Homo sapiens: one gene and its partner. The protein of the gene in region 1 purifies or fractionates together with the protein of each later gene. This does not show direct contact. Each region holds a gene or a part of one and is shown on either strand. Other genes may lie near its edges.

Region 1 (2,676 bases):
TGGTTAGCACGCAATTGGTATTTTTATTGTTCTGCCATTTTATTGAGGCTATCAAGTGGGACTTCAGACCTGGCTCTGAGCAGGACCACACGTGTGTATTTATATTGAGTGCCCTCACTCATGATAAGGTGACTTCATGGAGACCCAGAAACTCACCCTAAGGGGTGTTCACCTTTGAGGTGGGCATCCAGATGCTGAGGGGAAGTGGGGTCCATCCTCTGAGGTCCAGGGGCCTACTTTGTGAGCTCAGTTGTGTTCACCTGTGGTTCAGTGTACCTCGGCCCCTAAGCCAAGTGATCGTTCAGTGACTTGCAGCAATGTGGGAAGTGAGGGGACCCCTGCCACACCCCCCACCACCCCCTGTAGAGTCACTGACCTTCATCCTTCACCCTGGTCCTCCATGGTGCAGCAGCATCTCATGGGCCTTGTGGCTGTCAGAGCCCGTGGTTGGAACCCCGTCCACTGGTCCCAAACCTGGAGGGGCAGCTGCAGATGAGGTTTAGACCTCCTGGTGTCTCCGTGGATTCTGAGTGCCCAGGAGGGGAGGGGAGGGGGTGGCATCCTGGCCTCTAGGATAAATGCCTGGAGTATAGGGCAGCGCCACGGGCACTTGGAGACCCTGTCCTGCGCATCTGCCAAGCCTGGCAGTTTTTAGAGTTTTTTGAAATGTTTTGATACTTTTTGATACAATTTGCTAATAACTGTTTTGTAGAATGCCTGCCGGGGTTTTCCACCTCATCCCTTTCCTCCGGCCCCTTGATTTGTGCTGGACAACAAATGGCAGCACCAGGACCTCGCCTCATGTGGCTTTGTCTTGGATCTTGCCCTTCTCCATCGCTGATGTGATACAGCTCTAGAATTTCGTGAAGTTGCATGCAAAGTTGCATGCAGCCCGTGGGTATGACTGTCTCAGGCCCCCAGCTCATTTGCCAAGAGGAAACCTTAACCCCCCTGAGAGGGTCTGCGTTTCTTCTAGAGCTCCTACCTCAGTGGTGTGCACAGAGTTGGAGACACCTGAGGGCTGGTCCACGTCTCACCTTTGCCATACGGGTCATTTCTTGATCAAATATATGACTGGGGTCCTGGTTTACTCCCGCCCACCCTTTCTTTTAAAGTATTCTTAACATGAAATCCACAAAAGCGGAAACAATGAACCATTCTTGCACTTTACAGAATCATTGTCCTTAGCTTTAGAGGTTGTTAATTTCTTGTTTTTAACATGAACAGAATGTGTGGTTCTGAAGGTGTGTGGGGGTCTCAAGAAATTGTCCTTTGGGGCCGGGCGCAGTGGCTCACGCCTGTACTCCCAGCACTCTGGGAGGCCAAGGGGGACGGATCACCTGAGGTCAAGAGTTTGAGACCACCCTGACCAACATGGTGAAACCCCGTCTCTACTAAAATACAAAAATTAGGCAGTCGTGGTCGCCTGTAATCTCAGCTCTTCCGGAGGCTGAGGCAGGAGAATCGCTTGAACCCAGGAGGCAGAGGTTGCAGTGAGCCGAGGTTGCGCCACTGCACTCCAGCCTGGGTGACCGAGTAAGACTGTCTCAAAAAAAAAAAAAAAAAAGAAAAGAAATTGTCCTTTGGTTGCCTTAGTTACCAGAGTTGAATGAATGTACACATTTCGGTAGTGGGGGGGCAGAGCGGATAACCCCTTCCTTGTCTGTTTCCTTTGAGAAAGGACACTCCACCTTTTCAAAGGTACTTAAAGCCATCTTTACAGATTGCTTGTAATGTAAGGAAAGAGTCATGTCCTTTGGATTGATTGAGGTTAAATCATCAACCACTAGCCCCCTTTCAAAATCAGCGAGATATTTGATGATTAAGTGATTCATTGGGTATGTTCTGGCTACTGATGTTACTGAAATCTGCAATCGTGTATGTTTTTTAATTTGTTGCTTTTGTATTTGTAATTTTATGACATTTCGAAGTTTCTGTGTCTTAACTCTTTTTAATTAATTTTCTGCACGTTGCTTTTTTCTCTTTGTTTTTAATTCCATACAGAGTATTCAATTCTTGAAACACATTAAAATAATTTGCTTGCTAGGGTATGGTTTATTTTATAATTACATTCCTAGTCTTGTGTGGTTATTGTAATGATGTCTGGTCCTAATTTCTCTGCCCGTATGAAAAAGAACCCCTTGCCTGTTGATCCTAAATATAATTTGGAAATTAACCAGACTTCCTTTTGGTGTTGTGGGGAGGCTGGGACATTTCAATTCTGCTTTCATTGTGTTTCTAATTACTGTATTTTGCCAGGAATTTCATTCAGTTCCTTGATTGCAGGGCTAAGTCCCCGTGACCTGAAATGAAACTATTTGCTTAAATGTGTGTCAACTGGGGTAATTTGATTAGAAAAGAAACACAGAAACCAAGGGAAACAGCTTATGACAAGCAGTGTGCTATCTTTATCAGAAAAAATGCAATCACAATACTCTAAGAACCAGCTCTGTTTTCCTTCGGGCGCTCCCCTGCCTTGCTGGGGTTTTGCAAGGCCACCAGCAGAGAAGCCCAGGCACGGTTGTGCACCCTTTCCTTGTCCCTTCGGCAGGTCAGCATCGGGAGGGTTGGGGAGGGGTGTCTGCGCAGCCATCATACCTGATAAGGTGGTTAGAATTTGCCTCTGAGCCAGTGAGCCCCAAACGGGACCCGCTGCCCGGTGCCGACTTCCTCACC
Region 2 (10,462 bases), on another chromosome or scaffold:
TGATTAAAGGGTACCACAACAACCCCATTGCCTATGCATTCTTATAAAAAGCAACAAAGTTACTGTGAAAGTCAAAGTGAAGTGAAAGTTACCTTCCCAACTACCAAAAAACAAGAAAACGCTAAACCACTGAGAAAAGATTACATAAACAATGTGATGGAAGTTATAATGAACTCAACAGCTTTAAGTTACTGCTTTCTCCCAGGAAGGTCTCCCTTGATAAATAGCTACCATAGTTAACACCACATATTTATAATTTAATTTCACAATTGTCTCCTAAAACAATGTAACTGGGAAGTAGTAACTATTTCTGAATTGCTAAAAGCCCACTTTTACTAATAATGCTTTTCTGTTATACTCTTCACAAGTAAGCAGACTCTTCAAAGTGTCATCTGTCATCTGAACGAAAATTCACAGCTGACGCCCAATAGCTGGAGCAGCTATGCTTCCTGTGAAATGAAATCTACAAAAAAAACTACCAGGGTTTCTTAAATCAGTGCATGTATTAATTACAAACCATTAACTATTGATTTACTTCAAATTATACTAAAGTACGTATGTATAAACAGTATAAACTGAAATGAGACCCAAGAAATGTCAGGGTAGGCAACTTTCTAAGCACAAGTTTCCCCAATTATGCTTCAATGACAGTAAATAAATGGCTTTTGGTTCAATAGTGGCAAAAAATAAATATAATTCTTAAGATGTATGAGAACTACTCATTTTGATAACAGCATTTATGTAGCAGGCTTACTTAGCTCTGTAAGAAGTAATAGTACAGAGAAATGCAAAACTGTTAAGAATGACAACTTTTACTGGCATTGAGCTAAAATGATTATTATGACAAAAGGTGATAGATCTATATAAACATCATTCTCATAATAAATTTGTAATGAAAACATAGAAGGAAAAAACAAAAACAGGTAGGTACTTATAAAACTGTAACATATATGTCTAAAGTACAACAACCAGAAACATATTTCTAAAAAAAGCATCATTTTGAAATTAAAAGGCAATACCAAAAGAAACATCTCATATTTTCCTACTTAACCATGTGAAATTCCAATGAGATAGGTCTGTAGAAGTGTGAAGAAACATGTTTTAGGGTAATTGTTCTGACTACTTTTTAAAAGCACCCCAAGATAATCTGATTTATTCCTATGTCCATAATCTTATATGGACAACCAATCTTATTGGTTAAATTTCTATAACATGTTCTAATCTTAAATATCACATGTATTTAAGCCAAGTTTGATTTGTATTTACATGTTTCACAGGAAGTTCAAGTGTATTAGCCGTAGGAGGTAAGACAGGTTCAGGGCCTGAGTACTGTAGGCTTGTGAAAAAGAAGCCTAAATATTTCAAAAGTAGCATACATTTTAAAAGACAACTAAATATTAACTGACTTTCACTAGTAACCTGGGAAAAAAGGATTAAATTTTTTTCCCCAAGAGTATATCTTCTCTTTTATCCATTCTGAAATGTGGAATTAATTCTTATCTTTAAAGAAATGAAATTTTTTAATAGGTAATTTCAGTGTTTAAAAAACTAATACTTACAGCTTTCTTTCCTAGTTCAGTCTTTGACAATGTTAAGGATCCTGCAAGATAGCATCCAGGTCCTGCCCCTTTAGGTATTCTAAACAAGAGAATTCAAAGAGAAAAAAAGCAACAAAAGAGAAAGTTTCACAAAGACAAGTAAGGGGAAAAACATGAAAACAATTCCACACTGAATTCATTCCCATAGCTAAGACTTCAAAAATCAAAGGAAGAAATACTTCAGCCAAAAAAAAAATGACTACATCCTCTAAATTTAGCCTAGATGTCATAAACTGACATTAAAAGGACTACAGTGTATACGATGGGCAGTAAGTATAAGCAATGTTATCACTTACTTATCATCAGGTAAGGAAGTAACAAAGAATGGCTGGTTATATTTGGGTGGTAATGTCAAATTGCTTGATTTCTTCTTCCCTAGAAGTGCAAAACTATGATTTTCATGAATATCTAAGCTCAAGGTATTAGACAATCTATGAGAAACAATAAATGGAAGGTCTTTAAGGCGTTCCAAATCACTGATTTGCTCATGGCGAATCTGTAGTCGAATTGTATAATCTCCTTTCTCCAGTTTCAAAGAATACTGAAAAAGAAAAACAACATTTGGGAAAAGTTAAGTTTAACCAAGTCAACGGAAATCACTGAAAGAGGATAAAGTGAAAGTTACCATTCACAGACTTGTTCATAATATGTGAGGTACAGTGCAAGGAACTAACTATCCAGACGTTCATATAACACATAAAGTCCCTAGTACGCTGGTGAGCAGACAGGATCAGGGACATCAAGTGACTTGCCTAACATCACACAGAGTAAAGTATAAGAGAGCTGAAGTCAGGTCTGACTTCAAAGCCCTCATTCTTTCCAGAACGACAGAATACTCCCACACTTTTAGCAAAACTCAGTGTCTGCTTGAGAATGACAAAAGCAGTGATTTTCTAGTTCATGGGTCCCTCAGAGACATATAAGAAACACTACCAAAAAAATGAGCAAAATTGAGGCACCATAGAATATCTAGGACAAATACACACACACACACACACACACACACACACACACACACGTGTAACTTATGACTACTGGTAATCCTTATTTCCTTTTAGAGAGGGGGACTCACTATGTTGCCCAGGCTGAAGTGCAGTGGCTGTTAACTGGTGCAATCATAGTGCACCATAGCCTAGAGCTCCAGGGCTCAAGCGATCCTCCCACCTCAGCTTCCTGAGTAGACGGGATCACAGGCATGTGCCACCATGCCCAGCTGATCTTCAAATTACAACCAAAATGTCACTCCTTTATTACAGACAGGAAAAAAACAGGAAACCAATAGAGATCAAGGGATACAAATCTATTATCCACTTAACAGGTTCAAGAGGAAGAGATGCTGTATCCTGTGTCAGCCACTTTTTCTGAGATTTAAAAAGTAACCAAAATAATAGCACTGCAGTAGGCCAGTCTGTAATGAGATGTGACTGCTACTTGCTTTGAGGAAAATCGATACCATTCCTTTAACAACTAATTGAAAAAAATCTCCATAAATTATTTTCATTTGTCAACATAAAATTATACATATTACAGGAAATATCTCATTTCTTTGCAGTAATATCTAAGGGATAAAATGTCTATAAATTATGTGATTTTTCCCTTCAATAAAACAGCACAAAGCATAGTGCCTGGTATGTAGTAAGTGCTCATTACAGAGTTGTCCAACGAGGTAGTAAATTTAAAAGTACAAATGAACTGAAGACATGCGGCCACTGCTGCAGTGCTCTCTTTAGCCCCCTCAGACTTAGGATCATTTCAAGAGGCTCGCATCTCTTTGATGCATGCTTTGATGATTCTACCTTCAGATAGGTAGAATCAGTGTATAGGAAGGAGAAACACCACACACCAAAAGTTATGCTGGCCAGTGTGGGCAAGGTTCACCCTTGTCCTCCTCTAATTCAGCACAACTACATGGTGAAATAGTTGACACCATCTGTTCTTCACCGACTACAACAAACAGGCTCTCACAGTTTGCAAAAGTACTAAACACAAAGCTATAATTTTTGTTTTTTTTAAAGTATGAACATTACCATAACAAGAAACCAGGATTTTGTTAGTTCAGGAAACAGCTTCCGTTAATTCTAAAAATCACCATCAATTTTATACCTGATGTGGATAGGCATCGCCTGAACCCATCTGTCTTTTGTTCTGGTCAAAAATAATCCACAGTTGGCTGTCAAATTCAGATTCATATAATAGTTCACAAAGTAGTGGGCAGCTTGGAGTTACTTCCCCACTCTTGGGCTATTAAAAAACAAAAAAGATTACTTGGCATGATTTGCATATAATTTCTGATACAAATTTTTAATATTGTTATTGACATGAGACTTTTTCATTTAAAAAACATTAAAAATACTTGTGGTAAAAAATTTTGAAAATATAGAACACACAGTATTTTAGCACTTATAAAAGTCACTGCTCTCTTACAAACTTTTAAAAATACACACCTGGCTATGTGTATTCATTAATAAAGCAACATATACATACTTCAGGACCTCTAATTACTTTATAAAACTGAAATGTGAAAATTCACTGAAACCAATCCATTTCCCTAACATTATAACCAAACTGATGTGTGTTTCAGTAACAGTTTTATTGAAATCTCATTGATCTTACAACAATTCTTTGGTCCAGCATTTACACTGGCCTCCATTACTTTTGCCACCCATCCCACCTGGGAGCTACTCTGACCTTTCCCTGTTCCAGTGCCTTCTTCGCAGAAAGCAATCAGGCCCAGCACCATCACCAGAAGGCAGATGGTATTTCTGAGCCATCTAATCACCCCTGGGTCAGATGGCACCAATGGACAGTGATCAGTGATTTTATAAACTAAGGCTTAAGGCTAGGTCACCACTCAATTACATTTTGTGACTTTACAACTGAATGGTATTTAATTACAAATTATAATTTCCTAAAGAGTAATTCCAAATTAACTGTTAATCACTTGATTCTGTTTTTTATATATACCATATACACTGTCCTTCCATTTTTGATTCTATGAATCATAAATAAAACACAAAAGTTCATCCTAAGGGTACACTTTACTAGGCAAACACTTACTTGATGAAAGTTATATGTCAGGACCATCTCATAAAGTTGACGGTTATTTGGCAAAACATCTCTTGATCCTAAAGGTTTTGTTTTTGCACTCACTGGGCTGTAATGAGGAAACTACATAACTGGTTTGATTCAAGAGTTCATTGAATGAGACAAATAAAACCATATGCAACAAAATCTGTAACATATTGCAAAAAGTGCAGATGAACCTTCCTGAGAGCTATCCTTTTCAGTATACTCTACAATATTTTAATCACTAACTTACATAATTATTTGATTGAATCATATCAATACATACAGTTTAGATTTTGCAATAAATATGACAAAGGCAATCTTTTCATGGCAAAAACATTTTCAAATGTGAACAAACAGCTCTCAATACAACCAAATCCTAACACTAGGGTGACAACTAAAAGTGTTGCAAGACAGGTTCTGATTTGTACCCCTTGTGCAAACTGTTGACAGTACTGTGTTGTGTGCAGCACAGACCTCCCCAGACCCCTGCTGCTCACCAGATGGCAGGGGCCACACTCAGCCCTCCTCCTGGCCGAGGGAATGTTATTTCATATTTTTAGTAGTCCTCTGAAGGAAGTTGCTAATGTACAGATTTTATAAAGGAGAAAACTGACACTGAAGAGTAAGTTTTAAATATAGTTTAAAATGTCAGTGAAACATAATCTACTCTAAATTTAGCTCCAATTTTTTAGATTTAGGAAGAAAACATCAGGATGATATAAGTTGGATATATCTTCAAAAGCTGGATGTTTTAATTTTTATTGATAATTCTAGGAAGCAGTATATCTTTAGACATCACCGTGTCACTGACTATTGTCCCTAATTGGTTATTTTAATACACTTAAGACTAGGCTTCATGCCGATGAGTTAAGGTCAGATTAAACAAAAGAAACCAGGTATCTTTATAACACAGTGAGTATGTGAACACAGGTCAAGGTGCCCTGCTTTTGTAAGGGGAGCTGCTGAGGCACAAACAGCAGGCTACAGTACTTAAGTTTCTACCATTTAATAAACAGTTTCTAATGGTATTGCAGTTTCTAAAAATGACTGCATTAGGATTCACAAAATAATATCAGAGAGAATGTTAACTTGCTATTTTACAGCAAGAAATAAAAAGGTTAATGTCCACTGATCCTAACTAGTCATGACTGGGATCGGCTATCCACCATCCTTGACTTTGCTGGTCAGGTGGGACAGTGAAGCTAGAAGCTGATACTGGGGCTGCCTTGCAGAGATCTGCTGGCAAGGATAAAATTCTCACCTCTAGCATGCAGGTGGATTAAAAAAAAAAAAGGCCCTTTTTTAAGAGTGTAAGAGATCCCCCCAATCTATATTCAATATCTGTAGTTCCTAAAACATTGAATGATACCGCAGTGTTTGGACCCAGTTCTTCAAAGTTATGCAGGGAGCCAGATCTTCGTATTTCAAGGAGGACTGAACATCAAAGCGGTTGATTCCTTCCGATGCATGCTACAAAGGATTTCTCAAATTACTTTCTCAAACTTTACTAAAAATAAGCAATATTTTGTACCTAAAATAAATGTGTCCAATATAAAGTTTATAAGTACCCACACACAAAGCCTACTGCTATCTTCAGAACCACAGGTAATTTCCCCTCATTAAAGTTTAAATCTAACCAATGAAGTTACTCTCCAGTAACACAAGTAACTGACATTAAAAATCATGAAAATGTTGTGGAACTTACAATGTTTAACTGAGGAGCAGTACACACTATCCCATGGAAAGAAATGGTATAATCAATGTTGACATCACTGAGACTTGCCCACCAACGAGCAATGCAAAATTCAATTGCTTTTCCACCCTGCAAATAAAAGTAAATAAAATATATCTCTTTTCTTATTTTTCTCAAATTACAGAATATAAATACTAGCTGTTTCAGAGCAATTCTGTTTTCAAACTTTTCCTGTTTGTAGCAAGAAAACTCAAAAATTTTAACAGCTATGCTAAGTAAGAGTTAGACAAATCATTTGCAGAGATATGGTGTATTTAAATATACATAGTTATTTACTCATAACCCTATGCTTCTTGTCATAAAAGATCCTAGGCAGCTTCTGAAAGCACATATAATAAAGCAAATGTGATTTTATTATTTCGAAGTGAAATAAAAAATTAGGACCAAAAGAAAAATAATCAAGTATAACGACACAATAAAGATACTTCAACTTTGTAAGGCATACTCAATAGGCACAATTGAGTTTGGGCTCACAGCTACCTGGCAACCAAAACAAAATGACATTATGGTCATTTACATCTTTCTCCCTATTAAAAAATAAAGATAAGGAAAAGGAAAAAAAAACACCTGCTCTTAGCACTGAGTTTTAAAGTAAGTTTTCTAGTAATCAGTGATTTAAAAGTTTAAAAAGATGAAGCAACACTGATCCATGGAAGAACACAAATGAAAGTAACCAGAAACCAAGAGATACTGGGAAAATCCCAGAACCAACTGAAAACACAAAGGAGCGCATTGAAGGAAGAACATCAGTACTTTCACCTTCTATGGAAGAAAGACTAGTCATCATTTCCAACACCACAGATAAGAATGCAGTCTGCCATCATCTGAGATAACTTAGACATGAAGCAGTAGCAGTTTTCCTATAATGCAAATTAGCCTCATAGCTTAACAACACAGCATTAGTAAAATAAGTTAAGTGACAAGCAAACAGGTCTTAAAGAAATTAATCTATAGTACAACAAAGAATAATCTAAATCAGGGTCCTAACTACAAGGCACGAGAATCTACCAGACTAGTATGTTTCTTTGACTATGCTATTCAAGAATTACAGCCATAATTACCTCCAACTTGATTTCAAGTACCCTGATTAGATTTTCTATTTTTCTACTTCATTTTTTTGGCATTAAAAAAATATATAATCCCAACATGCTAAATACAAACTATAAAATCAAATGCAAATACTTAGTCTTAGCCCATACCAAAAAGGCAAATAAATTGTGTTAGGATTATAAACTATAATTAAACTTACTAGGACAGGAAAAGCTTCAGTCAGTGTTCCTTTCTCTGGAAGAGAACAAAACTTATAGAATTCATGGCTTCGATATGCTCTTTGCTTCACAAGCTGGACTGCATGTAGAACAAACTTTGCTGACACCTCAGAAGAACACGAACACACTGTCACTTCTAAAATAAGAAAGAAAGAAGCAAAGCTTTAAACTTATAAGACCTAAAATTGACATAAAGTGGCTTTAATAATGCCCACTTAGGGATAATTCCCATGTAGGGACATAATAGGGATCAAAAATAAAATGTACACTCAAATCTGCATATTTCCATAAAAACAAAGAATCAACAAAATATTAATAAAGGTAGAAGACTAGAAGATTTTCTATGGGAACGAAAGAAACTGGTATTAAAATGAACCACCACCATGAGGCTGCAAACACCTGGAAACAGCAAGCTGTCCATAGATGCATACACAATTACATTAATCGGGTACCTTTTAAAATCCCTCCTTGTTTTAGCTGAAAACCAGTCAATTCCAGATAAAGTAAGGAAGGTTATATTTTTGGAAACCTCTATTTGTTATCATGCCTCAATTCCTCATTGATAACTTTTCCTAATCTCTCTTCTTGGTCTACTTGTGTACTGTGTGCGTCTACAAAGCCTGGCACGACTACTTATGCTTAACTTTACTCTGAGCCAGCGCTGGAGGTAAGCCAAGATCACCGCAATGCCAGATTGGCAGCTTTTCTAAAGAACACCCAAGCTAATTCAAGGGAACTGAAGCAAGGCGCAATGCCGTGGCTCATAAAACCAGGTGTGCAGAGAGCTCTCAGAACCTAGTCAGTTGCTAAGAATACAAAATCTAGTGTTATGACAATATTTCTAATTATTTGAAATAAAACTAAGACTGTTAAATTCTCTTAACTACTTGCATTCTAGATCATTTGATAATTTTTATTTAAAAAAACAAATTATTTTCAATACCAACCTAAACCAATCATAAATCAGTGCCATTTATCACTAAACAAGTACCCAATTCAGTATTAATTAACCATAGATTTGTATTCTTTAATTTACCAGTGCACATTTTACCAGAGCCTGGAGCTCTACAAGTCCCAGGGGCCCTATGAGAATGGGACCCCAGGAATGCTGAACACAGCAACTCTGACTCCACCCTCTAGAAGTACTGTCAAGTGTGAGCGTAATCCCAACGAAGACAAGCTATGTACCAAGTACTATAAAATCCCTAATCCTTACAACAGACTAACGACTATATTTACAGTTGAAACAGAAGTCCAGAAAATTTAGAAACCTGCCCCCAGGTAACCATTAGCGTATGGCAGAGTGTGGATCCAAACCCAGACTTCTCAATTTCCAAAGCCCGTGGCCTTGCCGCTACTCTGTGCTGCCTCCCTCTAATCCAGTTCTCTTAACTGCAATATCTTGGACTAGATGCTCTCAAGGCCTCTGGAAGCAGGGTCCTTGTCTAAGTAGCTCACCACCTTAGCCCACTGAAAAGGGCCTGGCACAGATGGTACAGAAAAATATGCTTAATGAATGAGTGTAGTACAACCCGATTATCCTCAGAAGCCTCTCACTGCTGCAATAGCTCCATTATAAACCAGTGTGCAAATTAACAGGCTATATTGGGTGCTGTTCAATTCACTGCTTTAGCTCTCAGCTTTTGCTATTATTTTGCCTTTACCTAATTACAAAAAACAAGAAAAGTCTGGTATTTCCTGTGATACCAGGTGACAAACAGATGGACAGCATACAGATAGATGACCAGAAAATGGTATGGGGAACCAAATACAACCAGTTATTCCCAAACCAAGTCATACATGTGTGATTTCAATATTTCATTTTCAATAAAGTCTCAGATGTAAATATATCTGTACTTTCATACAAGTACAAAAAACACACTCCTAAGTAAAATACAAGCCATTTTTACTAATGACACCTATCTACCTTATAGGGTTCTGACGGGACTAGACAAGATAATCTCTGTAAAGTGCTTAGCAGAGGGGCCAAATCCAAGAAGTATCAACAATGCTGGCTACTAATTTAAATTGGGTGACACTTTCTTGACTGCCCGTATTTGCTTCCTTCTATCAATGGGAGTGAGCTCTGACAACTGACATACCCTTCTATACTGACTGCTAAATTGTAAATTTAGGACACACAACTTGTGAAGGAAAATATGGTACACCCACAGCTCTTGTAAAAAAGAATGACATGAGCACTCTCACAGGACTATAACATGTTAATTCAAGAGCTTTGTGTTAGGCAATCATTTACTCTCAAAATTTCAGAGACACTGAAGTGAAAATCTTCTATAAACAGAGCTTCAAAGATTAAAGCTCTATTTCTAAAATTCTGAGAGTTTAACAGTTTGAGGTTTAAGCAACAGCTGCATTGTTTAAACTGATTTGTAGTATTTTAAAAATTAGGCCGGGCACAGTTGCTCATGCCTGTAATCCCAGCACTTTGGGAGGACGAGGCGAGTGTATCACGAGGTCAAGAGATCGAGACCATCCTAGCCAACATGGTGAAACCTCGTGTCTACTAAAAATACAAAAAATAGCCTGGCGTGGTAGCACACGCCTGCTAGTCCAAGCTACTCGGGAGGCTGAGGAAGGAGAATCGTTTGAACTGGGGAGGTGGAGGTTGCAGTGAGCCGAGATCATGCCACTGCACTCCAGCCTGGCGACAGAGTGAGACTCTGTCTCAAAAAAAAAAAAAAAAAAAAAAAAAAAATTATTACCAGGTAAGGCATTATTCTAAACTAAGCTCAAACCTTAAATATTAAAAACAT

Evidence for each region.
Region 2: the proteins of KLHL36 (region 1) and TPP2 purify together in Homo sapiens (affinity purification with mass spectrometry; 2 studies listed by BioGRID and IntAct, with this or other methods). This does not show direct contact.

The regions. Positions count from the first base shown.
Region 1 is NC_000016.10:84,665,511-84,668,186, forward strand, and holds the end of KLHL36 (kelch-like protein 36), read left to right. Parts: 3' UTR 1-2,176; downstream 2,177-2,676.
Region 2 is NC_000013.11:102,640,584-102,651,045, reverse strand, and holds part of TPP2 (tripeptidyl-peptidase 2), read right to left. Parts: intron 7,825-10,462; coding exon 7,670-7,824; intron 6,490-7,669; coding exon 6,373-6,489; intron 6,138-6,372; coding exon 6,037-6,137; intron 4,753-6,036; coding exon 4,656-4,752; intron 3,840-4,655; coding exon 3,702-3,839; intron 2,140-3,701; coding exon 1,895-2,139; intron 1,639-1,894; coding exon 1,560-1,638; intron 1-1,559. UniProt on the Homo sapiens protein: Cytosolic tripeptidyl-peptidase that releases N-terminal tripeptides from polypeptides and is a component of the proteolytic cascade acting downstream of the 26S proteasome in the ubiquitin-proteasome pathway.